2 linked regions of the Homo sapiens genome follow. The protein of the gene in region 1 interacts with the protein of each later gene in a pairwise test. Each region holds a gene or a part of one and is shown on either strand. Other genes may lie near its edges.

Region 1 (3,813 bases):
AGGCTCTAAACCTGCCTGATTGGCTTGGCCACGCCAAGGGCCTAGCCAGAGGCTGCTATCTCAAGCAGCTGGGTCTTCACCCAGATCCTCCAACTGGAAGTTCGTACTCAGAAGGGCCCTCGGAACAGCCGTGGCTGAGTCAGGCCAGCCAGGCAGCAGCAAGCGGGGTCAGCAAGCAGGTCAGCCCCCTTCTAGGACAGATCACATCCTCCTGGCCTAGGCCAGCCCTCTTGTGCCGTTCCCTGCAGACCAGGAGACCTGGACCTGGACATGGAGCAGCTCCCATGGCACACTTGGTTCACAGGTGAGGGTCCCCTGCTTCCTCAGGAAGACAGACCTCTTCACAAATGAGAACTCACCTGTGAGCATCTCCAAGCCCAAGGCAGCAGGGAGAATAGGGCCCAGCATCTAGACTGAGACCCTCATGAGGCTCAGGCACCTGCCCAGCCCTGGCTTCCCCAGATGAGAAGGATCAGCCCACCTTGAAATGCTGCTGCTGTACAAAGACCCCACCCAGTAGGAGAGCTTCCCCCAAAATGCTGCAGTGTTGGAGACCCTGCCCAGCAGGTGCGCTGTCAGGCTCCGCTCTCACCTCTTTACTCGTATTTGCACATTTAAGCCCCAACAACCCTGTGAGGCCAGATGTATTTGGGAACTGCAGGTATTTCGATGACAAAGGCACACGTGGTGCATGGTGTGGATCATGGCATGCCCACACGGGTCTAGGGCAGAACCCCATAATTAAACCCACTCCTGTTCCTCAGAGGAACATGTGACTATTCAATGTAACAGAGAAAAATCAGGACTTTTAACTAGCCTCGACAATTTAGGTTTTGCCCCTAAATACGTTCAGCCTGAGTCAGTTTTCGCTAGTGAATGGGTTTTGCTTGGCATTCAGATTTGTAAGTCAGAGTCCAGATTATACCAGGTCCAGATTATAACCTTCTCTGTGTTCTCGGTGAGAAACCAGGTGCTGGAGGCGTTAATCCATTTGCCCACTTCCACTCTGGCTAATGGCTGGCAGAGCCAGGATTCACCCCCAGATCTCCTGGGCCAGAGCCTGCTGTCCTGCCTGGGTGATGCGGCTGTGTCTGCCCATCGTCCTTGCAGGCCCTGCTTGGCCCTGCAGAATGACTGAGCAGCCAGCCTGTCCTTGGACGGGTCCCCACCCCAGAAGACTGGATGAGAACCAATGTGGCCAGCATGGTCTAGGAGGCGAGCGAGCGAGATCAGCTGGGGCAGGCCTTCAGTAGGCACAGGAATTAACCAGGACACACCCAGGCGGAGGCCACACCAGAATCCTGGGGTAGGGATTCCCTGGCAAGGGCTCTGTCCACACCCCTGCAATGTCAGGCAGCCTGGGCACCACTGCCCCGGGACAGCTGGACCAAAGAGGGGTGGCAGTGAGCCAAGCCTAGCTTGTCCAGATGGACAAAGCACTCCTAAGGTGGGCAAAGATGCCCCAGGTCCCAGGGGGCCCCACACTCTCCCTGAAGCTGCTCTGGGAGCTCCTGGCACAGAACTCCCACACCTCTTCAGTGTTGGTGTTGGAAAGCTGACCGGTCGGTGAGGGAGGTGGCGAGCTGCAGTTGCCTGCCAAGGGCCTGGTGGCCTTTGGAATCCACAAAGCCCTCCCTCTGCTCAGACCCTGCCTGTGCACACGAGGGGACTGTTGTGGAAGGCCACGCACAAAGTACTAGTTAATATTTAACAAGCTTGCTCACATGCACATCTCATCCTATCCTTGCATTGGTCCCACGCAGCGAGATCCCACTGGACAGATGGGGAAAATGAGCTGGAGAGAAGCTCATACGGACAGCGGCACTGGGGACTTTCTAACTTGCGTGCTGCTCCTCCCGAACGCCCTGGCTGGTGTGCACGGCTCTCTCATTCCTCTCCCTGCCAAGACGGACCCACCTGGAAGGTAAGCTGCCCGACAGACCCTGTGGAAGGTCCTCAGCCCCTCCCAGTGGAGCCCCCTCCTCTCCACACGGCCTGGCTGGCGTGCACGGCTCTGAAGTGCTCGTTCCTCCTCAGGATCGGGCACTGTGCGTGTGTGTCTCTTCCTGGGGCTGTCAGGTCCACAGAGGCAGCAGATCTCGTTGAGGCTGAACTCATCCTCAACTCCCCACCACCCAGAAAGGGGGTCTGACATGCAGGAGGTGCCAGTAAAATCTGCTGAATGGACAAACATGTTGATCAATGCATCGGATATTTCCTTAATGGCCATGCTCACTCTCAGGGGCAGAAGGGACGTTCTGGCTGTGGCTGTCTGCAGGACTGTTCCCCAGCACAGCTGAAAGCCCTCAGACCGCTGCAGGGGCAGGAGAAAGGCAGCGCTTTCACGGAGGGGGGCCTGGAGGGGGGCAGGGGTTCAGGTTACTCCCAGGCAGCATGGAGGGAAGAGGACTCCCAGCTTGTCCAGCTGATCTCTGTTATGAGGTGAGCTGATCAAGGGGTGGGGAGAGAGCTGCAAGTTCTGTCTCCCCATGACCAGGTGAGTGCCCAGCAAACAACTCAGCACCCGGCAGAGAGAGCCAGAAACAGCCCCGAAGAGCTCAGGAGAACCTACCTGCTGGCCTGAAAGGGGACACCTAAGTCCTGTGTCAGCAACTGGACAGAACCCCAGGCTGCTGGGACCCTTTCAGCACCAAGGTTGCTTCTGAGACACACATGAAGCTAATGCCTGGGACTGCTGGCCTCATCACACAGCGCAAAGAAAGCCCTGCCTTCAGGCTGTCATGGCCTCTGCACCTGCCCACAGCTGTGTGCACCCAGGCCCACTCCCTGCAATCCCCGGGGAGCAGCTGCTCCCACTAAAGGGCCTCAGCCCCGCCCTCACTACCTCTCCAAGCACTGGTGACAAATGGGACCTTCACAAACAATCGCCTACAAGCTGAGAACAATGGCACCAAACCTCCACGCTCAGAAGCTGCAGTGGCATATTTTCCTGAAATCAGCAACTGGATGCCCTTTTTTGTCCAATTCAGCAGATCCCAAAGTACCTGGAGATGTTGCCTTCAAACTCCTCCATCTGGGAGGCCCAGGCCTCCGTCCTGAGCCCTGCCTATGTCTCCTCAGTATGAAACTGCACAGCGCCTTGCTGAGGTCTGACGAAGGACGGCTTCAAAACCACAAGAAGCAGGCTCATGGCTGTCTCCCCACCCAGCCAGGGTCGTGTGTAGAAAAGCAGGAGAGTTCCATGCACACGCTTCCGGTGGAGGGGTCACCGCCGCCAGAGATACCCCTCTATTCCTCTACCCCAGGAGGGAAGGACTCTGTCATCCAGTTGGCACCCCCGGGACCACCCAGGTGAGGACGCAGAGCGCAGTGGACCGGCTGTCCAGGCGTCTCCCCGCTCATCGTGCGGCAGATCAGGAGCACATCCAGTGTGAGAGCACACGAGACGCGAGCCCTCTGTCCCTCCTCGCTGCCCGTGCAGATTGCTGCAGGAGGTGACGCTGCCGTAATGAGCAACGGCCTCCCAGACCTCTCTAACACATAGCCTGCCCCAGCAGCCCTGATGCCACACAGCCGGCACACAGACGGCCCTGAGTGCACCCAAGGACACCTACCCACGCTGGTGATCCTCTGGGAGCTGAGGTCGTGCAGCAGGGCCTCGATGGCCGGGTTGTGTCTGGAGTACAGCTCGTACCGGTTGATACCAATGTGGAACTTGAGCCAGTTGGGATAGGAGTCCACGGCCGCCTCCCCGGGGGAGAGGAATTCTGCACCTTCAGCACCCGCATGCGGCCTGCAGGGAGCAGCGAGGACGAACATCAGCATGGAAAGAACAGGCCCGTGAGTCGGATG
Region 2 (3,813 bases), on another chromosome or scaffold:
ACCTCTGAGGAACCTAAAAGGCTGCCAGCGAAGAACAATCATTTAGACAACAGCGAATGCAATAGCCACCTGATTCCATGGCTCCATTTTCCCAAGGACTGGAGACAGCATACATTTATTCTTATCACATTTTGGAGAAATAGGCTATGAATCAGGAAAGTAGTCAAGAGGCACCGAGATTTAGAATTTGAATGTTACTAGGCCCCATTCTGACTACCAGTCAATGTCTTTAACCATTAGACTGCAACACTGCCCCTAATGTGGGCTGAAAATACAATGCAAATCTTGAGGCCCAAGGATGAAATGAGAAGGAAAACATCAAATGTGATAGATATCCTCAGCTTTTAAAAGGTCCTTATGCTTCTGATATCCATGAACACACTTGGTCATAATCTTTGGAAATTTTATCACAAATAGCATAGAAGCTGCTAGTTTTAAAATTTCAATCATTTGTTTGTTTGTTTTTAGACAGAGTCTTGGTCTGTTGCCCAGATTGGAGCACAGTGGCGCAATCTTGGCTCACTGAAACCTCTGCCTCCTGGGTTCAAATGATTCTCCTGCCTCAGCCTCCCAAGTAACTGGGATTACAGGCGTGCACCACCACTCCCAGCTAGTTTTTGTATTCTTAGTAAAGACGGGGTTTCACCATGTTGGACAGGCTGGTCTCAAAATCCTGACCTCAAGTGATCCACCCACCTCGGCCACCCAAAATGCTGGGATTACAGACGTGAACCACTGTGCCCAGCCTATTTATTTAGAGACATGATCTTATGCTGTCACCCAGGCTGGAGTGCAACAGTGTGATCACAACTCACTGTAGCCTCGACTGCCTCAGCTCAATCGATCGTCCTGCTTCAGCCTCCCAAGTAGCTGGGACCACAGGCAAACACCACCATGCCCGGCTAATTTTTAAACTTTTTGTAGAGATGGGGTCTTGCTATGATGCCCAGGTTGGTCTTGAACTAGGCTCAAGTGATCCTCCCGCCTCAGCTTCCCAAAGTGCTGGGGTTACAGGCCTGAGCTGCTGTGCCCAGCCCAATCATTTATTAATCAAAAAAATATTTACCAAGCACCTAACTGTCATATTTGAGACATGAGGGTTGTATTTGAGTTATGAGGGTAAGAAAGACTAACATGATACCTATCCAAGTGAAGTTACTATTCCTATGGGGTAAACAGTCAGAAAACAGATAAACAGCCAAGATAAAAACTGTGCTGGGTGTGGTGGCTCATGCCTGTAATCCCAGCACTTTGGGAGGCTAAGGTGGGCAGATCACCTGAGGTCAGGAGTTCGAGACCAGCCTGGCCAACATGGTGAAACCCTGTCTCTACTGAAAATACAAAAATTAGCCAGACGTGATGGCGGGTGCCTGTAATCCCAGCTATTCGGGACGCTGAGGCAGGAGAATCGCTTGAACCCAGGAGGAGGAGGTTGCAGTGAGCTGAGATCATGCCATTGCACTTCAGCCTGGGCGACAAGAGCAAAACTCCATCTCAAAACAAAACAAAACAAAACAAAACAAAACGGCCAGGCACATGCCTGTAATCCCAGTACTTTGGGAGGCTGAGGTTAGCAGATCACCTGAGGTCAGGAGTTTGAGACTAGCCTGACCAACATGGAGAAACCCCGTCTCTACCAAAAATACAAAATTAGCCGGGCGTTGTGGCACATGCCTGTAATCCCAGCTACTCAGGAGGGTGAGGCAGGAGAATCACTTGAACCCAGGGCAACAAGAGCGAAACTGTCTCTCAAAAAAAAAAAAAAAAAGCTGCAAGTTAATACTAAGTGCTACAAAGGAAACGGACAAGAGACTGGATAAAAAAAATAAGTATCCAATTTAAATAGGATGGTCAGAGAAGGTCTCTCAGGAGGGGATCCCTAGGTTGAGAGTTATAAATGAAGAAGGAGCTGACCATACAGAATATGAGGGCGTAGGCGGAAGACACTTGGACCAGAGAAAACTAGTCTTCATGGGGCAGCTTTTCTCTAAATTCAATTCCCTTTAAATCCTGCCATCAAGGTCAGCAAAACCACAAGAGTGGTATTTCAGCTACCACTCTGGCAGGGGCAATACTGTAGTACTGAATGCCAGCAGGCAAATCACTTGTCTATTCAACTCTACTTAGTTGGGCTCTAAATTGGACATAAAGGCAGATTCCTGAGGAAAACAAAGTGTAGGAAAAAACATTACAAAAATCACAGAGTAGGACCAATGAGACTTTAAGAACTCATCTCATTAGCTGACACAGATCAACATCTATAATTCAATAATTATGGTAGGTACAGTATAGACTATGCTAAAACAAAGTCTGCTGAGGTTTCCACTAAACATTAACCTCAATTCAGCCATCGCTTGGCCTGGAAGTTGTTCTTCCAATCAGTATAAAGTAGTTTTCATACATTTCCAATAGATGCCATAAAAAAAGGTATCCTAAAATAGAACCAGCATTATCAATATTACACCACTGAATACTGTCAAGTGCTAAAGAGATCTTACAGTTCAAGTGACTTCCTCTAATCTTGCTTTAAAACTGGATGAAATTGTCAAGAGTCATAGAACTGAACACTTTTAAGTTCTATGCATTTTACTGTATATTGATTTGATCTTTAAAAAGAAAGAAAAAAGAAAAACAAAAACTCCAACCAGGGAAAAAATTTTTCCTTTCTAGCTCTACATAAATACCAATATACCAACTAGAAAAGAGCTTTTCTGAGGAAGATAAAATCCACTAGCCTGAAGAAGGGACCAATGCTTTACTTTTTACCTTTTTCTCATCAGTAAGGTCAAGGGATTCAAGCTGTTTCCCCTGATCTGCTGCATACAGTTCCAAGAGATTATCAAAATTTGTAGTTAATACGAGGGCTCCATTTTCCATCAGGTGGAGAACTGACTGAAGTAGCTGTTTTCCAGAATCTTCCATCTTTGACTCCAAGTCATCAAATACTTCATATAAACAGTCCTTGAAAAATGTGGATCGAACATTACTGGTACGCTGAGGAGGGATTTGAAAAAAGAAAATTAGTCCAAAGTGCTTTGGTAGGTCAGTTGTTTTAGTTACAGCAGTAACAAATTTTGGAAGAATATTTTGAATTCAAAACAGAGATAAAGGCCAGGCGCAGTGGCTCACGCCTGTAATCCCAGCACTTTGGGAGACCGAGGCGGGCGGATCACGAGGTCAGGAGATCGAGACCATCCTGGCTAACACGGTGAAACCCCGTCTCTACTAAAAATAAAAAAAATTAGCAGGGCGTGGTGACAGGCGCCTGTAGTCCCAGCTACTTGGGAGGCTGAGGCAGGAGAATGGTGTGAACCCAGGAGGCGGAGCTTGCAGTGAGCCGAGATCGCGTCACTGCACTCCAGCCTGGGCGACGGAGCGAGACTCCATCTCAAAAAAAAAAAAAAAAATCCCGGGGATAAAATATTATCTATCTCATACGAACGTAATAAGGAAGATGAGATGATACATGCCAAGTGCTTAGCACAATGCTTAGCAGATAGCAAGTGCTACTATACGTAAGCTTCCTAAAATAGGCATTTTTATAGAATGAAGAAAATAAACCTGGCCAAGGGATATGAATTTACTGTCGGTATTAAAGGGAAGCTGGGGTACAAAGCAGAGCGACAACTACCCTCTCATGAGGTGCCAGGTAAGAAGGCAACACTTTCCGTTCATCTTGCCTTATGTAGGGAAACGCCACTGAGACACAGCCCTAATTGTGGTTTGGCATCTCCTTTTCTTTTTCTTTTTTTTTTTTTTTTTTTTTTTGAGACGGAGTCTCATTCTGTCACCCAGGCTGGAGTGCAGTGGCGT

The links.
Region 2: the proteins of FAM20C (region 1) and FAM118B interact in a two-hybrid assay, tested with the Homo sapiens proteins (one large-scale study listed by BioGRID and IntAct).

Annotation. Positions count from the first base shown.
Region 1 is NC_000007.14:195,495-199,307, reverse strand, and holds part of FAM20C (extracellular serine/threonine protein kinase FAM20C precursor), read right to left. Parts: intron 3,755-3,813; coding exon 3,576-3,754; intron 2,176-3,575; coding exon of another isoform or gene 1,808-2,175; exon of another isoform or gene 1-1,807. UniProt on the Homo sapiens protein: Golgi serine/threonine protein kinase that phosphorylates secretory pathway proteins within Ser-x-Glu/pSer motifs and plays a key role in biomineralization of bones and teeth.
Region 2 is NC_000011.10:126,249,687-126,253,499, reverse strand, and holds part of FAM118B (protein FAM118B), read right to left. Parts: intron 2,995-3,813; coding exon 2,767-2,994; intron 1-2,766. UniProt on the Homo sapiens protein: May play a role in Cajal bodies formation.